4 linked regions of the Homo sapiens genome follow. The protein of the gene in region 2 interacts with the protein of the main gene of each other region in a pairwise test. Each region holds a gene or a part of one and is shown on either strand. Other genes may lie near its edges. The genes, in order: TRAF3IP3, GORAB, PAEP and SEC22B.

What was found.
Region 1: the proteins of GORAB (region 2) and TRAF3IP3 interact in binary tests that used the Homo sapiens proteins (3 or more experiments, as listed by UniProt).
Region 3: the proteins of GORAB (region 2) and PAEP interact in binary tests that used the Homo sapiens proteins (3 or more experiments, as listed by UniProt).
Region 4: the proteins of GORAB (region 2) and SEC22B interact in binary tests that used the Homo sapiens proteins (3 or more experiments, as listed by UniProt).

The regions. Positions count from the first base shown.
Region 1 is NC_000001.11:209,759,028-209,766,058, forward strand, and holds part of TRAF3IP3 (TRAF3-interacting JNK-activating modulator), read left to right. Parts: intron 1-6; 5' UTR 7-107; intron 108-954; 5' UTR 955-1,012; coding exon 1,013-1,357; intron 1,358-3,487; coding exon 3,488-3,635; intron 3,636-3,785; coding exon 3,786-3,843; intron 3,844-4,040; coding exon 4,041-4,065; intron 4,066-4,335; coding exon 4,336-4,365; intron 4,366-4,464; coding exon 4,465-4,560; intron 4,561-7,031. UniProt on the Homo sapiens protein: Adapter protein that plays essential roles in both innate and adaptive immunity. Plays a crucial role in the regulation of thymocyte development.
Region 2 is NC_000001.11:170,549,152-170,554,351, forward strand, and holds the end of GORAB (RAB6-interacting golgin), read left to right. Parts: intron 1-2,863; coding exon 2,864-3,311; 3' UTR 3,312-4,683; downstream 4,684-5,200.
Region 3 is NC_000009.12:135,557,191-135,564,772, reverse strand, and holds the start of PAEP (glycodelin isoform 1 precursor), read right to left. Parts: upstream 3,018-7,582; 5' UTR 2,972-3,017; coding exon 2,876-2,971; intron 2,480-2,875; coding exon 2,340-2,479; intron 1,954-2,339; coding exon 1,880-1,953; intron 530-1,879; coding exon 419-529; intron 1-418. UniProt on the Homo sapiens protein: Glycoprotein that regulates critical steps during fertilization and also has immunomonomodulatory effects. Four glycoforms, namely glycodelin-S, -A, -F and -C have been identified in reproductive tissues that differ in glycosylation and biological activity.
Region 4 is NC_000001.11:120,159,513-120,166,543, forward strand, and holds part of SEC22B (vesicle-trafficking protein SEC22b), read right to left. Parts: intron 3,859-7,031; coding exon 3,698-3,858; intron 1,019-3,697; coding exon 872-1,018; intron 1-871. UniProt on the Homo sapiens protein: SNARE involved in targeting and fusion of ER-derived transport vesicles with the Golgi complex as well as Golgi-derived retrograde transport vesicles with the ER.

The sequences.
Region 1 (7,031 bases), about 39 Mb from region 2:
TTGCAGCAGCCTTATTGAGGTACAATTCATGTGCTTGTGGGTTTGGATGGCACAATCTGTGTCTGGGCTAAGGAAAGCAGACTTGGCACCAACATTAACCCTGACAGGTTGGTAATCCTAAAGAAATGGAACCCTCAGCCCCAACAGTATTGGAGCCAGATGCTCTGAAATGGGTTTTGGCCAGCACTAGGCATGTGGCAGATGCTCAGTCAATATTGATTGGACTTGATCTGCACCTGAGAGACACAGCCCAGTCCTGAGCTTGGAGTGGGGGGCCCATGGACCATTGTCAGGACAGCAGGTTGGAGGAATTAGGGTAGGGTTTCCCTCCTAAACCATGCCAGGTCCAGGCTCACAAGCTCGTTGCTAAAAGTCAAGAAGAGAGCAGTGGGTGCTGGTCACAGGACTGGTCACCACCTGAGGGGGTGTGGTTAGCCCTCCAGATCCTTGAGAAGTGTCACTCAACTATGTTAGTGACAGCTTGGACCAAGAGACCAGTAAAGATACTGACTTTCCTTTTCAACTGGGGGATAAGAGGGCAGATTGGCTCAACTTAGCTGCTTCTCTAGAAGTCTGGAAAATGAACACACACCTGCCATCCAAGAGGCTATAAGCTCATTATGATTTTAATCAATTATTTCTCATGTTCCCCTGACTCAGAGGCATGGTAAGATGTTCAGTCAAGGAGTAAGTGGCAGCCATAGAGACCCTTTTACTTTACAAAGGGGAAACATCGGCTAGAGAAAAGCAGGAATTCACTTTTATAAGACTGTATTAGTTCATTAGAGACTGAGCCCAAGAGTCCTGACTCCCACTTTGATACCACCATGTCCTCAGTTTTCAACCCACATGGATGGAACTCTGTGCTATTTCTGCCCCCTGGTCTAGGGAGATAGTCATTTTTCTGCCCATCTTCTGACCCCTCCCCTTCTCCTCCCTCTTGGCATTTGGCAGATCCAGGCATCTATTCCAGGAACTGGAAGCCAAGCGCAACAGGTGCTTGGAGGTCATCATGATCAGCCCAGACCCCAGGCCCTCCCCTGGCTTGGCCCGGTGGGCTGAGAGCTATGAGGCCAAGTGTGAGCGCAGGCAAGAGATCCGTGAAAGCCGCCGCTGCCGTCCCAATGTGACCACTTGCCGCCAGGTGGGGAAGACGCTGAGGATCCAACAGAGAGAGCAGCTCCAGAGAGCTCGACTGCAGCAGTTCTTCAGGAGGAGGAACCTGGAGCTAGAGGAGAAGGGCAAAGCGCAGCATCCCCAGGCCAGGGAGCAAGGGCCCTCCAGGCGGCCAGGACAGGTGACTGTCCTCAAGGAACCCTTGTCTTGTGCCAGAAGGATTTCTTCTCCCAGAGAGCAGGTGGGCCGTGTCAAGGGACATACTGCTGTGTGCTCTGGGACCCTCTCTGGACAAGGAGGGTGGGTGGGCTCAAGGTCACTAAAAAGTGACCTAAATCAAGTCCTTCTTCCTCAGTCATATAGTAAAGTTGCCAAGAGCTACTTATAGTAAAGTTGCCAACAGCTACTTATTCAGAGATTTTTGCTGTTGTGTTTTCGTTTGTTTAGCTCTTTTTGTTCTGCACTTGACTTATAAGAGAGAAAAAATAATTTTTAAAAACAATTTCAGGCTGGGCATGTTGGCTTATACCTGTAATCCCAGTACTTTGGGAGGCCAAGGCAGGAGGATCACTTGAGGCCAGGAGTTCGAGACCAGCCTTTTGATAGAGACAAGACCCTGTCTCTATCAAAAACTTTACAAACTAACCAGGCATGGTGGTGCACACCTGTAGTCCTAACTAATCAGGAGGCAAAGATGGGAGGATTACTTGAACCCAGGAGTTTGAAGCTGCAATAAGCTATGATCACACCATTGCACTCCAGCCTGGGCAAGAGAGGGAGACCCTATCTCTAAAAAACTTAAAAATAAAATAAATAAAAATAATTCCAAAGCTAATGCCTATATCAGTTCAAATTTAGGCAATATACACATGTCTTCTACAGCTATCTTACAGCATTCATTCATCCATCAGTCATCAAATATTTACTGAAAGCTTATTATATGCCAAGCACACAGGCCAGTCTTCTTGACACACACACAGACATATCTGTCCTCTTTTCTTCTGCAAGGCTGTTGTGCCCACTCTTCTCACTTCCTCTTGTGTCATTCCAATTCTATTAAATCACTTGACTATAGCCTCATCTGGTCCAGGAAGCTTTCCCTGGCTTCTCCAGGCCACCTCTGCTGTCTATGGGCCTTGTGAGGTTAAAATCTTCTAAGATTGTGTAACCCTTAGAGGGCCCATTAGTCTGGCCTGGAAAGGAACAATGTTGGCAAAAACCAGGGTATGCTGAGATGACCTTGGCCAGCAAACCATCTTCCTACTGAAGTTGTGAGCATGTTGACAGCAGGGATGTGTCCACTATGTTCCATGGTAATGCTTGGCATTGTTCCCTACCCAGAGTGGGTACTCTATCAGGGCTTCTTAACTAGTGGATCTGTTATGCTCAATAGGAGATGCTGTTCAGAGAAATGATCCTAGAGCCCAGTTGCAAAAGAAAAGGAACTGTATACTAAAGCAAAAAACCTTCCCACAACTCCCCACTTTACCTAGTCTTCACACAAAACCTCAATGATTTTCTAGCTGTTACTAAGAGAAAGGAGGCTTTCCTTTGAATATGGAAGGAACCTTATGGATTATCTATTCCAAACTCCTCACTACACAGACAGAAGACTGAGACCTAGAAAAGATGGGATCTGAACCCAGATCCCCTCACTCCCCACTCAGACCAGTTCTCTTTCCACATCACCATGCTGGCTATGTAAGTGGCCATAACCAAACAAGGTAGAGAGAGAAAAAAAAACAACAACTAGAGATTCTAGAGAGAAAACCTGGAGAAAAGTACAGCTCCACATATGCCTGGCCTGAGGAGGACCATTTCTGCCAGTCAGGACAAGGATATCAGGAGCAGGAGAAGCCTGTGTGGCTCTGAAAGCTTGAGTGGGCTACTTTGGTTTTGTGGATCTGAAACATTGTCTTCGTCCTGTAATGAATTACCACAGACTGGGTGGCTTAAATAACAGAAATTTATTTCTTACAATTCTGGAGTCTGGAGTTCTAAACCCATGGATTCTGCAGATCTGGTGTCTGATGAGAGCACTCTTCCCACTATGCAGATGGCCTTCTTCTCATTGTGTCCTCACAAGGCAGAGAGCAGAGAGAGAAAGCAAGCTCTCTCGTGTCTCTTCTAATAATGGCACTAATCCCATTCATGAGGGCTACCTGCTCTGACCTAATTATTTCTCAAAGTCTCCACCTCCTAATACTATCACATTGGGAGATAGGATTTCAACACACAGATTTGGGCGGGGGGACAATAAACACTCAGTCCATAACAAACATGATGGTTAGTTCTTCCTTCCGAAATCATCAGGAGAGTCTTTCAAGAGGCTCCAGGCAGTGGTTTTCAGCATTCCCCACTTGCCTTCCAGGTGACAGGCACCAGCTCTGAAGTCTTTCCAGCCCAGCATCCTCCTCCCTCAGGCATCTGCAGGGATCTGTCTGACCACCTCTCCTCACAGGCTGGGGGCCTTCCTCCACAGGACACTCCCATCAAGAAGCCACCCAAACACCACCGTGGTAAGAGCAGAGCCTCCCTCACTCCACAGGGCCTGCAGAGAATCCTGAGACAACTGTCCCAGCTCACTGGCAATGGAGAGTCCCTGTCCCTCCCCACTTCCCTCACTTCCTCCCTGTAAGTTCTAAATCAACTTATCCTCCATCTCTCAGGTACTCAGACAAAGGCAGAAGGACCAACAATTAAGAACGATGCCAGTCAGCAAACCAAGTGAGTTCCTGACCCTAACCCTCTCACATCCCATCCATTCCTCTCTAGAGAGAACACAATGAATTTCCATGTCCGCCTTAATTAAGAAAGAGGAAGCCCTTCCCCACCCTACTGGCTCTTCAGAAGGAATCAACCCACTGCCTCCTGACTTGATTCTTTGGTCCATTATCATTATTTTTAATTTCTTCTCTTTCCAGTTACGGAGTTGCAGTTCTGGATAAGGTAAGCACATATTCACTTTGAAGGGGTCAAATCAGAAAGTATTAAGCTCTGACATTCTGGAATTCCATGATAAACTTGGCTGGGATGGAGGGGCATCTTCTTCCTGGATGGCAAGGGGGTACTGAGCATAGACATGGGGACTAAAGGGACCCTGTCAGAGCCAAAGCAGAAGAGGTTTGCTCTACACAAGCCAGCCCAGGCTCTGGTTCTATATCCCAGGGTTTCAGGGGACTTACAGACATTTTGAATACCCTTGTTCTTTCTCTCCAGGAAATCATCCAGCTTTCTGATTACCTCAAAGTAAGTGGCATGTGACCCCTCCCCTCAGTTCCTCCATCCACTTACCCCCGATCCTCCAGGTTAATCTTACCCTCTTGCACTTTGTGCCCGCACCCCCAGGAGGCCCTACAAAGGGAGCTGGTCCTAAAACAGAAAATGGTGATTCTCCAAGACCTACTGTCCACTCTGATTCAGGCCTCTGACAGCTCTTGGAAGGTAAGGGAATGAAATTCTTTTTGAACAAAGCTTGGGCTTCTATGTGTTCCCATCTCATTTTTCTTTCCACATCATCACAGTAAGAGAAGGGGTTTTCTCACTACTGAAAAGTAAGCTGGGAAGAGGCAGGAGATGAGGGGGATGGTGCTCAGACCTAGAAGTCAAACAGGTCACAATAAATATATGGGTCATCACCTGAGGGTCATGGTGCTACATATCCAAGGAAGACCCAGAAACAAAAGTGGCAAGAATTCCCATTTTTTAATTTGTTGGAAGGAATGAAGGAAGATCCCAATATAGTTTACATTACTAAATATGCTAAATGTCAAATATTTTCATATGGGATTCCCACTGATATTTATCGAAACCAGCATGCCATGTACCCACTCAGTCCGAATAAAAATATCAGAGTGGGAAGGGACCTTAGAGACAATCTGGCCTAATACTCTCATTTTGCCCATGAGGAAACTGAGCTTCATAGGGGTCAAGTAACTTGCGAAAAGTCACACAGCTAGGTAGTGGCAGATCTGCAACTAAAATTCAGGCCTTTGATTTTAGTCCATTCAATGTACAATATTCATAGGTTATGTCCTCTATACAGAGCACTGGACTAGCACTAGAAATAATGAGATTATTTAGATAGGGTTCTTGCTTTGAGAAGGCTCACGGTTTTGTAAGAAAGACACATGACTAAACAATACAAAAACATGAAAAATAAAAGAAATGTTTTCAAGATATAGGAAAATACAAGAAGGAATGAGTGACTCCAGAGAAGAAAAGAGCCAGGGGAATACTTATATAAGCATTTGCCAGGAAAATATGGAAGAAGGAATAGTATTTTAGTTGGGGTACAGGCAAAGGTCTAAAGGCAAGGCCGGGGGTGGTGGCTCACACCTGTAATCCCAGCACTTTGGGAGCCCGAGGCGGGTGGATCACCTGAGGTCAGGAGTTCAAGACCAGCCTGGCCAACATGGCGAAACCCCGTCTCTACTAAAAATACAAAAATATTAGCTGGGTGTGGTTGCACATGCCTGTAATCCCAGCTACTCAGGAGGCTGAGGCAGGAGAATCGCTTGAACCAAGAAGGCAGAGGTTGCAGTAAGCTGAGATCACCTCATTGCACTCCAGCCTGGACAAAAGAGCGAGACTCCATCTCAAAAAAAAAAAAAAAAAATCTAAAGGCATGACACAGTCTAGTAAAATGGTTCTCCAATTTTTTTATTTCAGGATTCCTTTATACTTTTTAAATTATTGAAAATATATAAGAAATGTTTATATTTACCATACTAGAAATTAAAACAGTTGGCCAGGTGCCGTGCATCATGTCTGTAAATCCCAGCACTTTGGAAGGCTGATGCAGGAAGATCACCTGAGGTCAGGAATTAGAGACCAGCCCGGCCAACATGGCAAAACCCTGTCTCTACTAAAAATACAAAAATTAGCCAGGCGTGGTGGTGCACACCTGTAATCTCAGCTACTCCGGAGGCTGGGCCACGAGAATCGCTTGAGCCCAGGAAGTGGAGGTTGCAGTGAGCGATGATAGTGCCACTACACTCCAGCCTAGATGACAGAGCAGGACTCTGAGAGACAGGAGAGAGAGAGAGAGAGAGAGAGAGAGAGAGAGAGGGAGAGAGAGAGAGAGGAAGGAAGGAAGGAAGGAAGGAAGGAAGGAAGGAAGGAAGGAAGGAAGGAAGGAAGGAAGAAATTAAGATAGAAATTGAGAAAGAATTATTAATTTTAAAATAATGAGAGTAAAATTTTTCATGCTAACCTGAATTACATGTTTTAAGAAAAACAGTCTGGGTGCGGTGGTTCACACCTGTAATCCCAGACTTTGGGAGGCCAAGGCAGGTGGATCACTTGAGCTCAGGAGTTCAAGACCAGCCTGGGCAACATGGCAAAACCTCGTCTCTACTAAAAATACAAAAAATTAGCCAGGTACATTGGCATGCACCTGTAGTCTTAGGAACTCAGGAGGCTAAGGCAGGAGAATCTCTTACGTCCCAGGGGTGGAGGTTGCAGTGAGCCAAGACTGCACCACTGCATTCCAGCCTGGGCGATGGGAGTGAAACTCTGTCTCAAAAAAGAAAAAGAAAAAGAACCATATTTTCAAAAACAAAATTAGTGACAGGAGTATCATTGCTTTACACTTTTGCAAATATTTTTAATGTCTGGCTGAAAAAAAAGACAGCTAGCTTCTCAATTTGCTTCTGTATTCAATCTATTGGTTTAAACATAAAGAAAAATTCAGTTTCACACAAATATGTCATTAGAAAAAGTAAGACTTTGCTGATCCCTTAAAAGGGTCTTGGGGATTCCCAAGTTTCCTCAGAATCCCCATGTTGAAACCTGTAAATTAGTATGTACTATAAATTCATGTATTAATATGAGCTACAAGCAGCTTGACACCACCAAAGCATACCGCACCGGGTGGAAAGAGATGGAGCACACAACCTCACCGGCCTGTGTGA
Region 2 (5,200 bases):
ATCCCCCTTTAAAATAACAAAACAGTTCTATAATTACATTTCCAGTTCACTCTGTCTTACTGTGTTATGTATAATGCTCTTATTATTTTGTTCCAGAATGTCATCATACACTAATTTGGTATTACCCACCTGACCATAGGCTGGTAGTGCAGTTTGTGAAACTAATCAATATTTTAAACATTAAATCACTCTGTGGGAGAATATATATTCGTATTTCTGGCCAGAAGGACTTTAAATAAATAAACAAAATACAAAATCTTCAGTGATTTATCCAGGGTGATAGATCAATGGAAACCAAGGGACCTGTTCGCAAATGTTAATTTCAATTCAGTATTCATGAATCCAGACTGTAAATCTCTACTGATTGACTTTGACTGGCTGAAGGAGACCACAGACTTGCAGAAAAGGGAGGTTTGAGGCAGGGTCAGGGCAGGGTATTCATACACCTATAGAGAATGTCAGAACTCTTGTCTTGTTGCAAGAACATTACATGAACAGGGTATGTTATAAAGTATGGAGATAAGGGAACTAGGTATCCAGTAGAGTTCCTTTAGAACAATTCTTTTAACATAGAGGGTTATTGAAAGATAATGGGTGCTCTCATTTTTACATTTACTATATTTACAGTTAAAAAAGGAAATAGGATAAATTAACATTATGTAAATGAGTTTTCAAGTATAAATACCAGGTCCCTAAATTTTCCATAATCTTAATTTTAGATTCATGCTTACTAATATATTAACAGTACTTTTTGATTCTGGTGTTCTAAATGAGAAGTTCTGTTTCTTGAGCACCTACCAGGCACAAAACTGGAAGTTTGCCCCATTTATACTGTTTAATCTTCAAAACTCCTATGAGGTATTATTATCATCATTGTTTTACAGGTAGACCAAGACTCAGCTTAAGTAACTGCTCAGAGTCACTGTGCCGGAATTTTCAGTTATTGCATGCCTCTTCCCCAACCCCTTCCAGAGGAACCTGGCTGTGTTTTGGACTCAGGATGCTGACCTGGGGCATACCTAATTAGAATAGTGATGGGCTACCGACTCCAGTACATTTAATCCATAGGCTAAATAGTGGTTCACGGCATGGCCTGACACTAAGAGTTCTGTTTAAACTGAGATGAGCCGGGCAAACCTATGTTCTCCTCTGAGAGTGTGGAATTGGATCACTGAGAGATTGGGTGGAGTGAATTTGATACAGAGTGCAGGTGGTGGCCATATTGGCCTGTGAGTATGATAGGAAAGCTGAAATGAGAGAAAATGTGTCGCTTCTAAGCATTGAAAAGAATAGCCTTTGATTCTGATGACATGACTATGAAATTGCCTCGTGTATCCTACAATAAAACCCAATTTTTACCTGAGCTAGTTTGACTGGATATCTGTTCTTTGTATCCACAAGAAGCCTTGACCGAAATGGGTACACATGGTAAATGTCAGGAAGGTTTTGAACCCTGAGTTTTCTAAAATGAAAGCCATTTATTATTTTCACTGTATTTTCTTCCAAGACAGAGAATCCTAAATTAGGAGATATACCTGTTTCTTTTTTGCTATAACTCTTGTACTAGAAGCTACTTATTACACTAAGTTGATGTAGGCACTCATAACAGGTAAAGCAGCATGGCCTTCACAACTGCTAATGGTAATGAAATTAAAGAACTAGTTGGAAATCAATCTTTTTTCTTGCAAGAGAGGAAGGACCCTCTTGTTGCAAAAAGAAAAGCAACAAATTTTATAGAAAAGGCAAAAGACAATAAATTAAGACACGATAACTCTTCTTTTTGTACTGACCTAATGCAGAAGAAAAAAAGTGAGATTGCAAGGTGACTTCTCTAGTAGAATTGCCCTATTTCACATAAGACTTCACATAAGATTACCTGTCAACAGAGTTTATACATGTGTAACTATGTAAAATTTCCTAGTAAGAGTGTAAGAGGAGTAGTGGAGAGAATGAGAACAACTTAACCCAAGGATTCTCAACTGGGAGCATTTGTGTCCAATAAGGGACATTTGGCAATGCCTGGGGACATTTTTGGTTGTCATAAATTTTGGGAATTACTGGCAACTAATGGGTAGAAGCCAGTGATGCTGTTTAGCATCTTGCAGTGCAGGACAGCTTCTCACAACAAATAATTATATGGCCCAAATTGTCAGTAGCACCAAGGTTGAGAAATCCTGCATATAGCTATCCTGAGGTTTTCTACTTGATGTTTACTTCTTGCCCTCACCCAGTATCATTTTGCTGGGTGTGCTCTGTTCCATTTATATTCATCTCCCGACCACTGTCCGTATCTTTCTCCATCAGAATTTTTCTTTTTTTCTAATTTATTAATCAAGAGAACAATTTTCCACTTTCTCCATCTCTTGTCTGTCTTCTCATAAATTTAACCAGCTGTGTGCTGAAGCTAGCTTACCCTGGTTCATGTGGATTTTGTGTATCTCTTCCCAGTTCTGCATTCAGTAATATCACGTTGGTGGCTTGAAATTGGACAGGGTGGTAGTAATTATCCCATGGAAATGTAAACGCTACAAATCAGGGCTCCCCATCCTCCCACCCCAGAACTAGCATACCACTGAATTAACCTTTTAGCCTGCCTTCACTCAAAAACAGCTTTGTAAAGAAAACATTCGTGCAGAATAACATGTTTTCATTAGGTGAATTCAAGTAAGGATACTGTGAAAGTTTCAGCAGCCATAGCCTAGTCTGGCCAACATGTAGACAAGTGTTTGTAAAGTAGTAATATCCGTATCTTCATTATATATTTTTTCCCAATTTTGGAGTTGAGTTATTGTTTCTAGATCCTCTTTTGAATATCTTCTTCAATGGAAAACTGATGGACCTATCTTTATACACATCCTTACAGGAAGCGGTTTGACAGGGCTGAAGCAGAGTACATTGCAGCAAAGCTAGATATACAGCGCAAGACTGAGATAAAAGAGCAACTCACTGAACACCTTTGTACGATCATACAGCAAAATGAGCTCCGAAAGGCCAAGAAGTTGGAGGAGTTGATGCAACAACTAGATGTAGAAGCCGATGAAGAGACTTTGGAGCTTGAGGTGGAGGTCGAGAGATTGCTACACGAACAAGAAGTAGAATCAAGGAGACCAGTGGTTCGTTTAGAGAGGCCATTTCAGCCTGCGGAGGAGAGTGTGACATTAGAATTTGCTAAAGAGAACAGAAAGTGTCAAGAACAAGCTGTTTCCCCAAAGGTAGATGACCAGTGTGGAAATTCCAGTAGCATCCCCTTTCTTAGTCCAAACTGCCCAAATCAAGAAGGTAATGACATTTCAGCTGCTTTGGCCACATGAAGTTCTGGTATTCTTTTGAGCTAATATGGTATTGAGTAAAGTATACTTTTTGCAGTAGATCATGCCCTGACCTCCAATAAAAACCTCTTTAAAACAATGCTGATTTTTGAATTCATGATTAGTTTTAGTAAATTAATAGGTTTGGCCATTCTAAAATCCAAAATTATGATAACTGTATTTCTAGGGGTATGTTTCACCTTGATTTTGGCCCGGTTCTTTCAGTGTTCCGTTTACCCTTTTTACTGAAAGTAAGTGACTTAAAAGGATGGAAGAAAAACTACATGGTTGGAGTGTTTTTAGATCAGATAAATATAGAAAAGTAAAATGGAAAATGATACTCAATACCTAGTTAAACTCATTTCACTTCTCCTGGGAGACGTATTAAGACTGGAAGTCCTATTTTATTTAATCAGTATCAGTAAAAAGACAAAAATTACAGTGTGAACAAGAGAAAAACAGGAATAGAAGAAAAAAGTTGCAGGTTGAATTATCTATCTGGATATTACTAGAGTTGTAAAACACAACTTGGAAACTGGAATTTATGTGAAGAACCAAACAACTTAAACCAGCATCACTTTTGTCTTCAATTTGCCTTCCAGTGATTTTAGTTTACAACCTGCGTTTTGTTATTTGAAACACACACACTTATATATAAACACATGTAATTTTACTATTTTATTGTCTTTCCTTTAATCGATGAATTGATTAAATTTAGACAATTAAAACATTTCTAAAGTGAGACTGAAAATAATATAGAAAATCTCATTGCTACTTGTGATTATCAAAAAAAGTATGTATTTTCTTTCTAAAGTTATCTATAAATATGTTTTTGATATGTTGGACATGAATTACCCTGTCATGAAGCGTTTAAATTGTTAAAATGCTGATTTTCTTATTAGTTTGTTAATTGCCTGTTACTAGTACTTGACCAATACATTGTGCTATATGTAAATGTGTAAATAAATATTGTAATTTTCTCACAAAGTCTGTGAATATCACATTATGATTTATTTATCAGAAATTCCAAAAAGTAAAAATATTACCTTTGAGGACTTTTTTTTTTTAAAAAAAGAATTATTATCAGAGAACATAAGCACAAGTATAAGATTGTATCCATAAAAGTTTCTGAAAAACTTAGGGACATCCTGTTTTTAAATGGGTTTGTTTGAGGGTATTATCTTCTGGTAATATAGATGAGCTTTATATTTTTATATTATGTAATTTGAGTTGAAAGTATAACATTTTACTACTGACTTCTCTAAACAGAAGCATTTCTATAGATAGTTGTGCTTTTATTTATGAAATACATAAAAGCCAACAGTTTCATTGTCTAACACACTTCTTTTTCTAAGGAATAAACAAGTCTGATGTACTTATAGTGTCTTTCATTTACCTTAAAAAAATTTCAAACAGTTTAGTATGTATTAAGCATTGTGTGACAATAATGCATCTTGGATCTCCTTGTGGTACATACAGTTACTTACTTTTATTAAGCCTCTGTTAAGGAAAATTCATTATCAGTGAGGTTTTATAATATTGGTTAAATGCAGGCATGTGCAATCTTAATTCTCAGTGTAAACCCTTCAAAGATATATGAAGAAATGAGAACCGTGAAAAAAATATAAGTTAGATGAGACCTCAGAGATAATCTAATTTAATCTTTTATTTTTTTGAGATGGAGTCTCACTCTGCCACCCAGGTTGGAGTGCAGTGGCACGATCTCGGCTCACCGCAACTTCCACCTCCCAGGTTCAAGCAATTCTTCTGCCTCAGCCTCCCAAGTAACTGGGATTACAGGTGCCTGCCACCACACCTGGCTAATTTTTCTATTTTTAGTAGAGACGAGGCTTCACCATGTTGGCGAGGCTGGTCTCAAACTCCTGACCTCA
Region 3 (7,582 bases), on a different chromosome or scaffold from region 2:
CAGCCCTTTGGGAGGCCAAGGCGGGTGGATCACTTGATCCAGGAGTTGGAGACCAGCCTGGCCAACATGGTGAAACCCCGTCTCTACCAAAAAATACAAAAATTAGCTGGGCATGGTGGCGTGCGCCTGTAATCCCAGCTACTCTGGAGGCTGAGGCACGAGAATCGCTTGAATCTGGGAGGCAGAAGTTGCAGTGAGCCGAGATCACGTCACTACACTCCAGCCTGAGTGACAGAATGAGACCCTTTCTCAAAAAAACAAAGCAAACAACAAACAAATAAAAAAAACCAAGAAAAAAAAAGTCAGCCCACAGGCACCGAGGTGGACAGGAAGCCAGTTGTCAGCTCCCCAGGGTTCCCAGCCACGGACGTAGCTGCTGCCTCTCACCCACGTTGAGCTCATGTGCTGTGAGACCCACCCAGGTACTGGCACATCATGCTCTGGATGGGGGTGGTGGTGTCCTGTAGGCAGAGAAACAGGAAATTGTCGTAGTCAGTATCGAGCAGCGTGGCCTCGTTCGCCACCGTATCTGGGGAAAGAAGAGAAGAACCAAAAGGAAGATGAAGCCTCCGTCTCAGCAGAGTCCTGTGCAGGTGTGTGGACATCCCACCACACTAAGTGGCTTCCTCATCCACTGACACCATGGGACGTGGCCCCTGCTGTGGACCATGATCAGGGAAGCCAGGGAGGAAAGGGGAGGAGAGGCAATGTGGAGGGCCATGGAGCCCCGGCTGAGGGGGAGAGGCCAGGTGTGCCGTGGAGAGGCAGACACGGCAGGCAGGGAGGCTGTGACCTGGAGAGACTCCAACTGAGAAGTCACGTACGGGTGAGGATGGCGGGAGATGGCACAGGAACAGGGCACAGGGGCGGGAAGAGGGAGAAGAAATGGACCTTGGAGAGTGGCTCGATTCTGGGGAGGGCAAGCAGGGTCAGAAAGGCCTGAGGCAAGTCCCAAGCATGAGAAGCAAACTGTATTTGCTGGGAAAATGTGCCCATGAGGGGATAAGAGGCCCCAGACCCTGACCACCTCTGTCTTTTTAAAAAAATAATAATTAACAAAATAGAACAAAATGTTGCAAATTGTTAGGAAGAATTCAGTGGACCAAGGACATGCTGTAAGCCCCTCTCTCTTCCCCCAGAGAGGCCTGGGAGCTCAGCCTAAGACCAGAGCTGCAGCCCCAGAGTGCGCAGGAGGCAGCCAGGCCCACGGGAACAGCAGCCACTTGCCCACCTGCCCACCTGCCCACCTGCCCACCTGCCCACCTGTTCACCTACCCACCTGCCCACCTACCAACTTGTTCACCTGGCCACCTGTTCACCCACCCACCTGTTCACCTACTCACCTGCCCACCTGTCCACCTACCCACCTGTCCACCTGTATACCTACCCACCTACCCACCTGCCCACCTGTTCACCTAACCACCTGCTCACCTGCCCACCTGTTCACCTAACCACTTACTCACCTAGCCACCTGCCCACCTACCCACCTGTTCACCTACCCTCCTGCCCACCTGTATACATATCCACCTACCCACCTACCCACCTGCCCACCTGCCCACCTGCTCGCCTGCAGCCTCCCTGGCCTTTTGTGAGGCCAGAGTGAACAGTGCAACAAAGCACCTGTCCCCTGTGCCTGGGCACAGTGCAGACCCACATCCAGTCATGTCATGCCAAGAATTAGTGCTTCCCCTGCCCTCCAGGTAAAAGATGCCTCTGGGGTCAGCATCAGGTTGACCGGAGTAAACACTCTGACTCCCTGAAGCAGAGAGAGTGGGGACAGGCCAGGCCCCACTCCCTCATGCCCCAGCAGAGCCGCCTCTGGGAGAGCGTGGCTAGCATGCCAGCACTGAGCCAGCCCTTGGGGCCTGGGGACACTCACAGTTGATCTTGAACTTCTTTGGATTCTCAGTCTTCTCTCCAAGGACCTTCTTCTCAACACAGCTGTTGTTCTCCCTGAAAGGTGGTGACAATAGGATGAGTGGCCACTTGAATTGGAGTTGCCTTCACTGTCACTCCTAAAATCAGGTCACCACGGGAACTTCCCCGGGTCCAAGGAGCACCGCAGCCCGCAGCCGCCCAGACCTTCTCCTCAGTCTGACCTGGGGCTGCACTGTGTGGTTGGCTGTTGGCCCAGAGCCTGGGGCAGGGGATCCAAGGGGACAGGGAACGTCTGGAGCCCTGGTTTTCCACCCCACCCTCATGGAAGGGCCACAGTGAAGCCCCTGGCTGTCAGAAAATGCCTGGGGCTAAGTCCAGCTCCGCCCAACCCACCCAGTCCTGGACCCCTGAGGGGGGAGACTGAGCCCCCGCCCAGCCCGTCTCAATGATGAGAAACCCACCATCTGTGCAGAACGATCTCCAGGTTGTCCTCGGGGGTGGGCAACAGTGAGGTGATGTGGACCCTCAGAGGGGCCTTCAGTGTCGCCATGAGGGAGATGTTGTTGGTCGCCATGGCCATGGAGTGCCAGGTCCCTGCCAACTGAGGGGGCCTTGGGCTGCACGGCGGTCCCACCCCACCATGGCTCTCGTTGCACCCGGTGCAGACGGGGCTGAGTCTAACTGGGATGGGTACAGTGAGCATTGGATGGTTGTCTGCTATCTACCAGATCCTGGGCTATGAAATTTCCTGTACTTAAAATGACCAGTGTGTGCTAACTCAGGAGTGTTCCAAAGTCCAAATAATGAGTCACCTAGGATGCTGGGAAACCAGAGAGGCCACCCTAAAGATGGAGAGCAGGGCTGAGGGCTTCCTGACGTCATGGCGTCCATTCTGTGCTTCCTGTAGGTTTCTGAGATCCTGGGCTTCCTGCCTGCCCGCAGCTCCCACCCGCCCCAGGCCTCCCACAGTAAAGTGCCCGCTCCCCCAGCCTCAAACCTTTGGGAGCTCCAGGTCCTGCTTGGTCTGGGGGATGTCCATGGCCGGGACACCACAGACCAGGGCCACGCCCAGGGTGAGCAGGAGGCACAGCATGGCTGCGGCTGTGGGTGGCTCTGAGCTCTGGAGCCAGAGGGATGCTGAGGCAGTGTGGGCTCAGGGGGCCTTATGTAGGAGGAGGGCAGACAAGATCCCCGCCCACAGCCTCGCCATGTGATTCCTCGAACCTGTGACTCATCCTTGGCCCCTGGGCAGCTTCCTCCACTGGGGCAATGGGAGGCTCTTCCCTGCGTCCACGCGGGAACCTCCTCTGTGTCCGGGCTGGGCAGTTCTTGGCAGGGCCTCAGGCGGGAGGGGCCTGGGTCGGGTCCAGGCTGGCAGCGGCGGGAGCACCTTCTGGGTTGGGGCTCCTGGACAATGTTGGGTCAGAGGCCAGCACTGAGGACAGCTGTGTCCAGGGCAGGGGTATGGCCTGTGGGGCAGGCAGAGGGCCTGAGAGCCCCATGGCTGCCCCAGGATGCCACAGACATCATGCCAGTGGGTGACTGACTGCACGGTCATAATCCTGACCTGTACCTTCCACTCAGACATCCCCAGGTGTGCACACCTGTGTCCCTCAAACAGCCAGCCTCTGGACAGGTGCACACTGCCTGTTAGCACTGTTTCTCTCTGACTCACAGGCAAGACTGGGTGGAAATGGGAGGCAGTGGACTTTCAGACTTTGTCCTACAGTCTATATTGGATGTACTTTTTCCCACAGGGAAGCATCACTTTGTAACTTACAATCGAGCCCGCATCTCACTCCCTGGAGAGCACTTGAGTCCTGAGGCAAGACACGGGTGTCCACTCCCACTCCCCCATCCATCAGAGCAGGTCATTCCGGCCAGAGCAGCTAGGCAAGAAATGGTAACTAAAGGCAGGCAGATTGGGAAGGGGGAGGTATACCTGTCTCTATTCGCATATAACATCATTGCCCAGGTACAAAATTGCAAGAACTCTACAAAACCCCTCCTAGAACCGAGTGAGGTCAGCAAGGTCAATCGCACAAAAATCCACCGTGTTCCCACACAGTGTCAAGGAGTAGACAGAACCCGAAACTGGAAATTCAGGATTTGTAATCACACACACAGCATGTAGGCAAAAATCTCACCAAATATGGACAGGACTTAAACTCTGAACCCAAGGAAGGGAAATCAAAGACCTAAGGTAAAGGACAGGCACAATGTGTTCATGGGCTGGAAGCTTCAACACAGCAAAGGTGTTAGCTCTCCTCAACTCAACCTAGAGATTTAATGCAATTCCTATCAAATTCTCAGCAAGATATTTTGTAGGTAGCTATAGACATGTGTGTGACACACACACACACATATATACATATATACATTTTTTTGAGGCCAAGTCTTGCTCTGTTGCCCAGGGTGGAGTGCAGTGGTACGATCTTGACTCACTGCAACCTCTGCATCCCAGGTTCAAGTAATCCTGCTGCTTCAGCCTCCAGAGTAGCTGGGATTATAGGCGCCCACCACCACACCTGGCTAATGTTTGTATTTTTAGTAGAGAGGGGTTTTCACTATTTTGGCCAAGCTGGTCTCGAACTGCTGACCTCAAGTGATCTGCTCACCTCGGCCTCCCAAAGTGCTGGAATTATAGGTGTGAGCCACCACACCCCACCATATGTAGATATATAGAGAAATTTTTTTTTCTAAAATTTACATGTCAAGGCAAAGGAGCTACAATTGCTAAAGCCATTTTGAAGAAGAATAAAGTATAAAGAGTTAGTCTACCCAAGTTTACAAGCACTATTATCAATAGTCACCAAGAGATTGTGGTATTGGCAGAGAAATGGACACATAGATCAATGGGAAATAGAGAGTCCAAACATGGACTCACACACAACAACAACAGACCTTTAACAAAGCTGCAAGAACAGTGCGTGGGGGAAGTGTTGTCGGAAAAGAGGGTCCCAGTCCAGACCCCAAGAATGGGTTCTTAGATCTCACACGGGAAAGAATTCAAGGTGACTCACAGAGCACAGTGAAAGCAAGTTTATGGGAAATGACTCTGTGCCAGAGCCGGGCAACCTCAGCGAGCAGGAGGAACGCCCGTCCTCTGTGAGTGCCTCTGTTTGTAAGAAGCTGTAATGAGCTACAGTGAAACCTGGATCATGCAGATGCACTCGCTAAAGATAGGGGCTCCTAGTGTGATCAATGACCATTTGCCCTTCAGCCTCAGCCTACTCGTTGACGTTATTTGTGAGCAAAGATAACCCCCTGCACTCCCAGGTCATCGGTACATTCTCCAGGCTTGGTGGGAGATGCCTCGTATGGGCATAAATGTTCTGCAGTTATAATTGGTGGTCAGCTTAGTATGCGGGTATTTTCAGACCATAAGCTCGCGCCTGTAATCCCAGCTACTCGGGAAGCTGAGGCACGAGAATCGCTTGAATCTGGGAGGTGGAGGTTGCAGTGAGCCGAGATCACGCCACTGCACTCCAGCCTGAGTGACAGAATGAGACCCTGTCTCAAAAAAAACAAAGCAAACAAACAAATAAAAAAAAAAACCAAGAAAGAAAAAACCAGCCCACAGGCACTGAGGTGGACAGGAAGCCAGTTGTCAGCTCCCCAGGGTTCCCAGCCATGGAAGTAGCTGCTGCCTCTCACCCACGTTGAGCTCATGTGCTGTGAGACCCACCCAGGTACTGGCACATCATGCTCTGGATGGGGGTGGTGGTGTCCTGTAGGCAGAGAAACAGGAAATTGTCGTAGTCAGTATCGAGCAGCATAGCCTCGTTATATAACCTTATAGGTGCCTTGTGAGTGTCTAGTTATTCACGTTAAGATGGAGTCACTCTGGTCATGTTTCATTAAACCAGAGGCCTGGCAAGCGGGAGTCCCTCTAAAAGAAGGACAGTCTTTGCAACAAATGGTGCTGGAGCAATTCATCACGTGCAATCGATCCCATGCAAACGAAGAACCTCCATCTAAAACTCACACCTGACATATGCATTAACTCATAGTTTAAAAGTAAAACATAAAACTATACAACTTTTAGAAGAAAGCGTGAGAGAAAATCTTCAGGACGTAGGGCTAGGTAAAGAATTCTTAGACTTGACACCAAATGCAAGATCCACAAAAGAAAAAAACTGGTAAATCATACTGCATCAAAATCTGAAACTCTTGCTCCAGAAAGACCTTGTTAAGAGGATGAACGGGGCCGGGCGTGATGGGTCACACCTGTAATCCCAGCACTCTGGGAGTCCGAGGTGGGCGGATCACCTGAGGTCAGGAGTTCGAGACCACCTATGGCCAACATGGTGAAACACCATCTCTACTAAAAATACAAAATTAGCCAGGCCTGGTGGCACATGCCTGTAATCCCAGCTACTCAGGAGGCTGAGGCAGGAGAGTCACTTGAACCCAGGAGGCAGAGGTTGTAGTGAGCCAAGATCACGCCACTGCACTCCAGCCTGGGTGACAGAGTGAGACTCCGTCTCAAAAAACAAAGAGAGAGAGAGAGAGAAAAAAAAAAAGAGGATGAAGAGGCAAGCTACAAACTTGGAGAAAACATTTGAAAGTTTCATATCCAACAAAGGACTGGTGTCTGGAAGATATAGAGAACTTTGAAAATTCAACAGCAAAAATAAAATCCACCTAGAAAATGGGCAAAAACCATGAAGGAACATCTCCCCAGAGAAGATCTATGGGTGGCAAATAAGCACCTAAAAAGATGCTCAATGTCATTGACTATCAAGGAGCACCAATTAAGGCCACAGTGAGCTATCACAGCCCAGCTATTAGGACAGCTACAATGAAAAGTAGGGACCTATTAGGACAGCTACAATGAAAAGTAGGGACCTATTAGGACAGCTACAATGAAAAGTAGGGACCTATTAGGACAGCTACAATGAAAAGTAGGGACCAAACCAAATATTAGTGGGGATGGAGACAAACTGAATCTCTCAAAATGTTGAGAAATGCATACTTTGAGTGGCTCTAAAATGGTTCAGCCATGCTGGAAATTGGAAGTTGCTTTTGTTTTTTATTTAAAAAATTTTAAGCTTAAATAATAGAGACTGGGTCTCACTATGTTGGCCAGACTGGTCTTGAACTCCTGGGCTCAAGAGATCCTCCCACCTTGGCCTCCTAAAGTGCTGAGATTACAGGTGTGAGCCACCACGCCCAGCTGGAAGTTTCTTTTAAAACTAAGCATATGCTGGTCCAGGAGTGGTGGCTCACGCCTGTAATCCCAACTTTGGGAGGCCAGAGGGGGATGGATCACCTGAGGTCAGGAGTTCGAGACCAGTCTGGCCAACATGGTAAAACCCCATCTCTACTAAAAATACAAAAAATTAGCTGAGTGTGGTGGTGTGCACCTGTAGTCCCAGCTACTCAGGAGGCTGAGGCAGGAGAATCGCTTGAACCTGGGAGGTGGAGGCTTCAGTGAGCCGAGATTGCGCCACTGCACTCCAGCCTGGGTGACAGAGCAAGACTCCGTGTAAAAAAACAACAAAACAACACAAAAATAATAAGCATATGCTTACTATACAGCCTGGCAGTTTTACTCCTGGGCATTTATCCCGAGAAATGGGATAAATGGACACAGAAAACCCGGTACACAATTGTCCACAGCAGCTTTGCCTGTAATAGCTAATAACTGGAAAACTCCATCCGTGAATGAATGGTTAGACAGACGAGTACATCTGCCTTA
Region 4 (7,031 bases), about 50 Mb from region 2:
TTATGTTATATGGAAATATATTTAATATATATTAAATATATATTTAATATGGTAAGAGGTATTTAATAAATATATTTAAGGTAAATTAGGTAAACACACATACATGTAATATGTGCTAAAACCATTATGTTATTAAGTGCTTTAGGAGTTTAAAGTACAGAAGAGATTAATGTGATACAGGCTATAAGGATCAGAGAAAGGTTCTTTAAAGAGACAGTTCTTATGGAGGTCTTACAGAACAGGTCCAGCATAAGGCAGAATAGACCACTAAGGATAGTAAAGAAGCTGGTGTGGCTACAGAAGAATGTTTGTGAACTAGAGAATGACAGACATTTGCATCTTCCTTATTTTCCATATGTAGAGCACAATGCCTTACAAATAACAAGCTCTCAATAACAATGGCTGACTGACGGAAAAATAAGTCAGACTGGATCTTATCTTGTAGTCCCAGATTTAAAAGTTTTTCAGAGGAATGCCTTGATGAAAATGGCATTTTATAAAGATTGATCTGGCAGCAGTAAAGTCTCCCAAAGAGGCTACTCAAAAAACCACTGCAATACATCATTGAGTTTTCTCTCATTCATTTCCCTTAATTTATACAAGTTATATAATTTAATTAATTTTGTGAATATCTTAGAAATAATCATTGCTTCTAATATGGATGAGTCCTTTACACTGTTCCAACTCAACAAAAACTAATCATGCTAGGAAAAAAAATATATTGGAAGCATTGTAATGTAATGTACTTCTGGGAGATAAATTCTTAACAGTTCTAGGTAGAATCTAATAGCATAAAAGGCACTGCAAAATAAGCTATCCTTGTCTATGGAATGAGAACCATTTCTTCATAAGACTCATTGCTTTTAGATACCTGAGAGTGCTTCTCCTCGTTGTAACACTTCTTCAATATTGGCCACCATGATCCTCTGCACATCTTGCAATTCAGTGTTGATGGAGCCTAGATTTCTTCGAGCACGACTGTCAATGTAGAGCTTCTTGGTTTTCTGAATGAAAGTATCTAGAATGATGAAGAAAACTGACCATTTCTTTCATGGCCATCAAAGTACTGAGGTAGGAGATTAAAAGTTCTGAGTTGGCCAGGCGCGGTGGCTCACACCTGTAATCCCAGCACTTTGGGAGGCCAAGGCAGGTGAATCATGAGGTCAGGAAATCGAGACCATCCTGGCTAACACAGTGAAACCCCGTCTCTACTAAAAATATAAAAAGTTAGCCAGGCGTGGCGGCACACGCCTATAATCCCAGCTACTCAGGAGGCTGAGCCAGGAGAATCACTTGAACTTGGGAGGCAGAGGTTGCAGTGAGCCGAGATCACACCACCACCACACTTTAGCCTGGGTGACAGAGCAAGACTCTGTCTCAAAAACAAAAAAAAAAAAACCAAAACAGTTCTGAGTTTATTCCTGGATTTGCCACTGTCCATGGTTAACCAAACTCTTGGTTGAATATCAAAATCTAGGCTTTGATTATTTCATTTGTAAGATGTAAAGGTATAATTAGACGACCATTCAGGAGAAATGTCCTTTGAATACCTTTGAATTAGAAGTATTTGCTATCTAAGGCTGCTATCAGAATCCTTAGAGAAATTAAGACCCACTATAGTAAGCCTTTCCTGAAAACAGAAATTTTCAAACAGTATTCTGAGGACCCTTAGGCTAAGTGTTACTTACCTCTACACATTCCTTAAAAGGATGCTGGTAACACTCTAGCATTATTACAGCCTAACATGGCAAAAGGGTTCATGATCATTAAAAAGCTGAGAAACTTTACCTTTTCTCTAATATACATTCCCAGTTTCATTCCATTCTTAAACCTCAGGTAAAGCAAATATGTAATAGGGAGTTTTCCAAAATACCAATACAAAACTGAACTGAAGTCTCGGCCAGGCACTGTGTCTCACACGTATAAATCCCAGCATTTTGGGAGGCCAAGATGGGTGGATCACTTGAGGCCAGGAATTCGAGACCAGCCTGGCCAACAAGGCAAAACTCCCATCTCTACCAAAAATACCGAAATTAGCTAGCTGGTCATGGCAGCGTGCACCTCTAGTCCCAGCTATTCAGGAGGCTGAGGCACAAGAATCACTTGAACCTAGGAGGCAGAGGTTGCAGTTAGCCAAAATCATGCCACTGCACCCCAGCCTGGGCAATAGAGCGAGACTCTGTCTCTAAGTAAATAAATAAATAAATAAAAACTGAAGTCTCATCCATCTTTTGCTCATATCAGTATTTCTCAAAACTATAGGAAGAATGACTTATTATTAAAGATATTTTCAACTTTTGGCAAAAATCTTAATTTAAGTGTGCTGTACCCCTTTCATTTGCCTCTTTAGATCTCCTCTCTGCCCTCCTGCACCTTGCTTTCTGCACTGGGAAGCTGACTTGGATGAAGCGCCTCAAGACTCCTTGCTCTGTGCCAGTTAGGTTCAGGCAATGAAGAAGCCCCAACAGTAGGGAAGAAGGAGAACAGACAGTGAGTGATGTCCGGGTATTTATTCCCCTGGCTTCTTTCAGAGAAGGAAATAACCTTCTTCTGGAAGTATCCCTCTACCAAAAGTTACGCTCCTCTCAAGTTGGCCTTCTCTAGAAATTTTCTCCTTTTCAGTTTCAGAAACTGCTCCTCCCCCTTATACATTCAGGCCTAGGGATGGTAACAACCAGTATGCTACTGGTCAGAGGTTACTGTACCTTGTAATTCTCCTACAGCCTAGTCATATCTTTGTATATAATCCCTTAAGCTAATTTGGGTGTGCCATCTGTTTCCTGTATGACCCTGATACATTTGTCTTATTTTTGAGGGAGGTTTATGGGAGTATTACTGTCTATAAAAATAAAATTTGAAAAACTGGACATTATATAAAGCAGCACTTGGAGAGTATATAGTTATGAAACACTAGAGTGTTTTTCCAAAGCAAGATGACCCATTTATCTAGCAAACTTGAAACACTTCAAAAATTCTAAGCCAGTAAAACCAATTTCTCTTTTAACTAAAAATTTCAGCGATATAGCCTGATCCTACTTGTTCTCACTCCCTGTACTTACTGTACTTAGGACATTTCCTTTGATCCCTTACCATCAGATACTTTACCAGGTCTGATTAGTAATTAGTCTTTCTATAATTCTTGCACAAATACAGACACCTATGCTCACTATTCCTGAATGTAGTAAATATTATACCCCAATACCATGAGTACCAGGTATCTTCTATTTCTTTGTTATGTTTTGTTTTTTTAATTAGAGGATCTTATTCTACTAAAAGAAACAAAACATCATTCTTTCTGATTTCCCAATTCTGATCTCCATAAAATGAGCCTTATTGTGAGTGTGAGTCTGTGGACTGGGGTAAAGAAGAACTCAGCCATTATATGCCAATCAAGTAGATCTTTAGGCACAGTTCCTGTCACATGTGACTCTAAAGAAGAATCAAACCAAATAACAGAAAGGGCAAAAGGCAACAATTTCTATGGGGGAAAGATCAAAAGACTAGAGAAAATTACTTTTCAGAACAAAGCCTTAGTCACTCAAAAAGACAAAAAGAAGTGGAATGGAAAAGGATGCAGAAGCTAAAACTTCAGCAAGTAAACATCAGAAAAAATGTATAAATATTATATCAGTGTAACAAATAGCTTCTCCATATTGTTTGCTCCCTTGATAGAGAGAAGTGAGGGGCAAAAACTTACCAAATTCAATAAAGGAATAGGGTCGGGACACAGTGGGCACCTTCTTTCCATGCTGTTCATCAAATTCTGAGTGCAAATCTTCTAGGTAGGCAAAAGCCAACTTCTTAGGGAAGGCAGCTTCACATAAAACCAAATAACACACCCCCTGCTCAATAATGTAGCTGGTGAGACATAAAAAGCAAGACAAAGTTATCTGTAAAGTAATAGCACTGACAACAGTTTAAAGCAGAATCTCTGTACCATGCAAACTTTTTAAAAAATCTAGCCTAAATACTTTGAGGCTGGCTAAACGAGAGTCAATTTAAAACCGCAAATCCTTGGAATCAGAAAGCAAACATCTTCCCATTATTAGATGTATATTCTTTTTTTTTTCTTTTTTTTTTTGAGACGGAGTCTCGCTCTGTCCCCTGGGCTGGAGTGCAGTGGCATTATCTCGGCTCACTGCAACCTCCGCCTCCCGGGTTCAAGCCATTCTCCTGCCTCAGCCTCCCGAGCAGCTGGGACTACAGGCGTGCGCCACTATGCCCAGCTAATTTTTGTATTTTTAGTAGAGACGGGGTTTCACCACGTTGGTTGGCCAGGATGGTCTTGATATCTTGACCTCGTGATCCGCCCGCCTCAGCCTCCCAAAGTGCTGGGATTACAGGCGTGAGCCACTGCACCCAGCCTATTAGCCGTATATTCTAAAAGGAGTATTTAGACATATTTATTATAATTTTTCATCCATTAGATTCTCTTTTTTTTTTTTTTTTTTTTTTTTGGAGACAGGGCTCTTTCCATCACCCAGATTACCCAGGCTGGAATGCAGTGGCATGATCTCAGTTACAGCAATCTCCACCTCCCAGGTTCAGGTGATTCTCACACCTCAGCTTCACAAATAGCTGGGATTACAGACACCCACCACCACACCCAGCTAATTTTTGTATTTTTAGTAGAGATGGGGTTTCACCATTTTGGCCAGGCTGGTCTGAAACTCGTGACCTCAATCGATCCACCCAATTCAGTCTCCCAAAGTGCTGAGATTACAGGTGTAAGCCACTGGACCCAGCCCATTACACAATTCTTCAACTAACATTTTAAACTTTTATTTTAGCTTGAGGATGTATATGTGCGGGTTTGTTACCTGGGTATATTGCATAATGCCGAGGTTTGGGGTACAAACAATCCCGTCACCCAAGTACTAAGCATACTACCTAATAGTTTTTCAACCCCTGCCCCCTCCTTCCCTCCTCTTCTAGTAAGTCCTCAGTATATTTATGTCCATGAGTGCCCAATGTTTAGCTTATAAACTTATAAATGAGAATATACAGTATTTAGTTTTCTGTTCCTGCATTAATTCACTTAGGTAATGACTTCCAGCTCCATCCATGTTGCTGCAAAGGACATGATTTCATTTCTTTTTATGACTGCATAGTATTCCATACTGTATATATACTACATTTTCTTTATCCAATCCACCACTAACATGTACCTAGGTTGATATCTTTGCTATTGTGAATAGTGCTGCAATGAATATGCAAGTGCATGATTTTTGGTAGAAAGATTTGTTTCCTTTTGGATATAAACCCATTAATGGGTTTGCTGGGTCTAATGGTAGTTCTGTTTTAAGTTCTTTGAAAAATCTCTAAACTGCTTTCCACAGTGGCTGAATTTACATTCCCACGAACAGTGTATAAGCAATTCCTTTTTCTCCACAGCCTCATCAGCATCTGTTGTTTTTTGACTTTTTAATAATAGCCCTGTGACTGTTGTGAGATGGTATCTTATTGTGGTTTTGATTTGCATTTCTCCAATAATTAGTGATGTGCATTTTTTCATTAGTTTGCTAGCCTCTAGTATGTTTTGAGAAATATCTGCTCATGTCTTTTGTCCATTTTTTAAATGGGGTTGTTTTTTGCTTAATACTTAAGACTTTTTCTTGAAAAATTCAGAGTTGTGACTCCATCCACCCTTTGATTCTATATGGTAAACTAGCATACACATATTTAAACTCTTTCCAGCCACAAAGGAAAACACTGTAACTGGAAATTTCTGTGGATAGAAATGTAAGGTTAATGACATAATGTTTACTGGGTACAAGACTAATAAGACTCCTTAATTTACAGTCCAGGAGAACTCTGTAATCAACTGGAAACTTATCAACAATGGAACTGACTTTCTTTTGTGATGATGAGCGCCCATGCACTCTGGAAGGGGCTGTATGATTACACATCTGAGAAATTCTTAGAAAAATGTTAGGCTACTAAGTGGTTTTCCAACTTCTTTTTAGCCATAGTATACATACACACACATGCAAATATATATATTTATATATGGAATATGTATATATAACAAGCAAAACATATTCAGAAGGCCAATGTATATATCAGATAAAATCAGAGGTTCTTTAGTTTAAGTAGGAGTTTGCAAATATTTTCTCCCATTGTGCAAGTTGTCTCTTCACTGTGTTGTTTCCTTTGCTGTGCAGAAGCTTTTAGTTTAATACAGTCCCATTTGTCTACTTTCTTTTCTGTTGCCTGTGCTTTGAAGTCTTTGCCATAAAGTCTTCGCCCAGGTTCATGTCCTGAAACATTTCCCCTATGTTTTCTTCTAGTAGTTTTATAGTTTAGGGTCTTATGCTTAAGTCTTTAATCTACTTTAAGTTGATTTTTGTATATGATGAGATAGGGATCTAGTTTCATTCATCTGATGAGGAACTAATATCCAGAACATACGAGGAACTCAAACAACTCAACAGCAAAACCAAAAATAATTCAATTAAAAAGTAGGCAAGGAACAGAATTGACATTTCTCAAAAGACATGCGAATGGCCAAGTATATGAAAAAATGCTCAACATCACTAATCTTCAGGTAAATGTAAATAAAAACCACAACGACATATTATTTCACCCCAGTTAAAATGTCTATTAAAAAGACAAAAGTCAATAAATGCTGTTGAGGATGAAGAGAAAAGAGAACTTTTATACACTATAGAAAACAGTATGGAGGTTTCTCAAAAAACTAAAAACAGAACTACCATACAATCTAGCAATCCCACTGCTGGGTATTTCTCCAAAGGAAAAAAACTCATTATGTTAAAAACTTATCTGTACCCCCATGTTTACGGCAGCACCATTCATAATATCTATGGATAGATAATCAAGAGAAATGTCCATCAAGAGAATAATGGATTTTAAAAGTGTTTTTTACACACACACACACACACACACACACACACACACCATGGAATACTATTCAGCCATAAAAAAGAATGAATTTCTATCATTAGCAGCAACATGGATAAATCTGGAGGACATTAAGTTAAATAAAATCAGTCATGCACAGAAAGATAAAT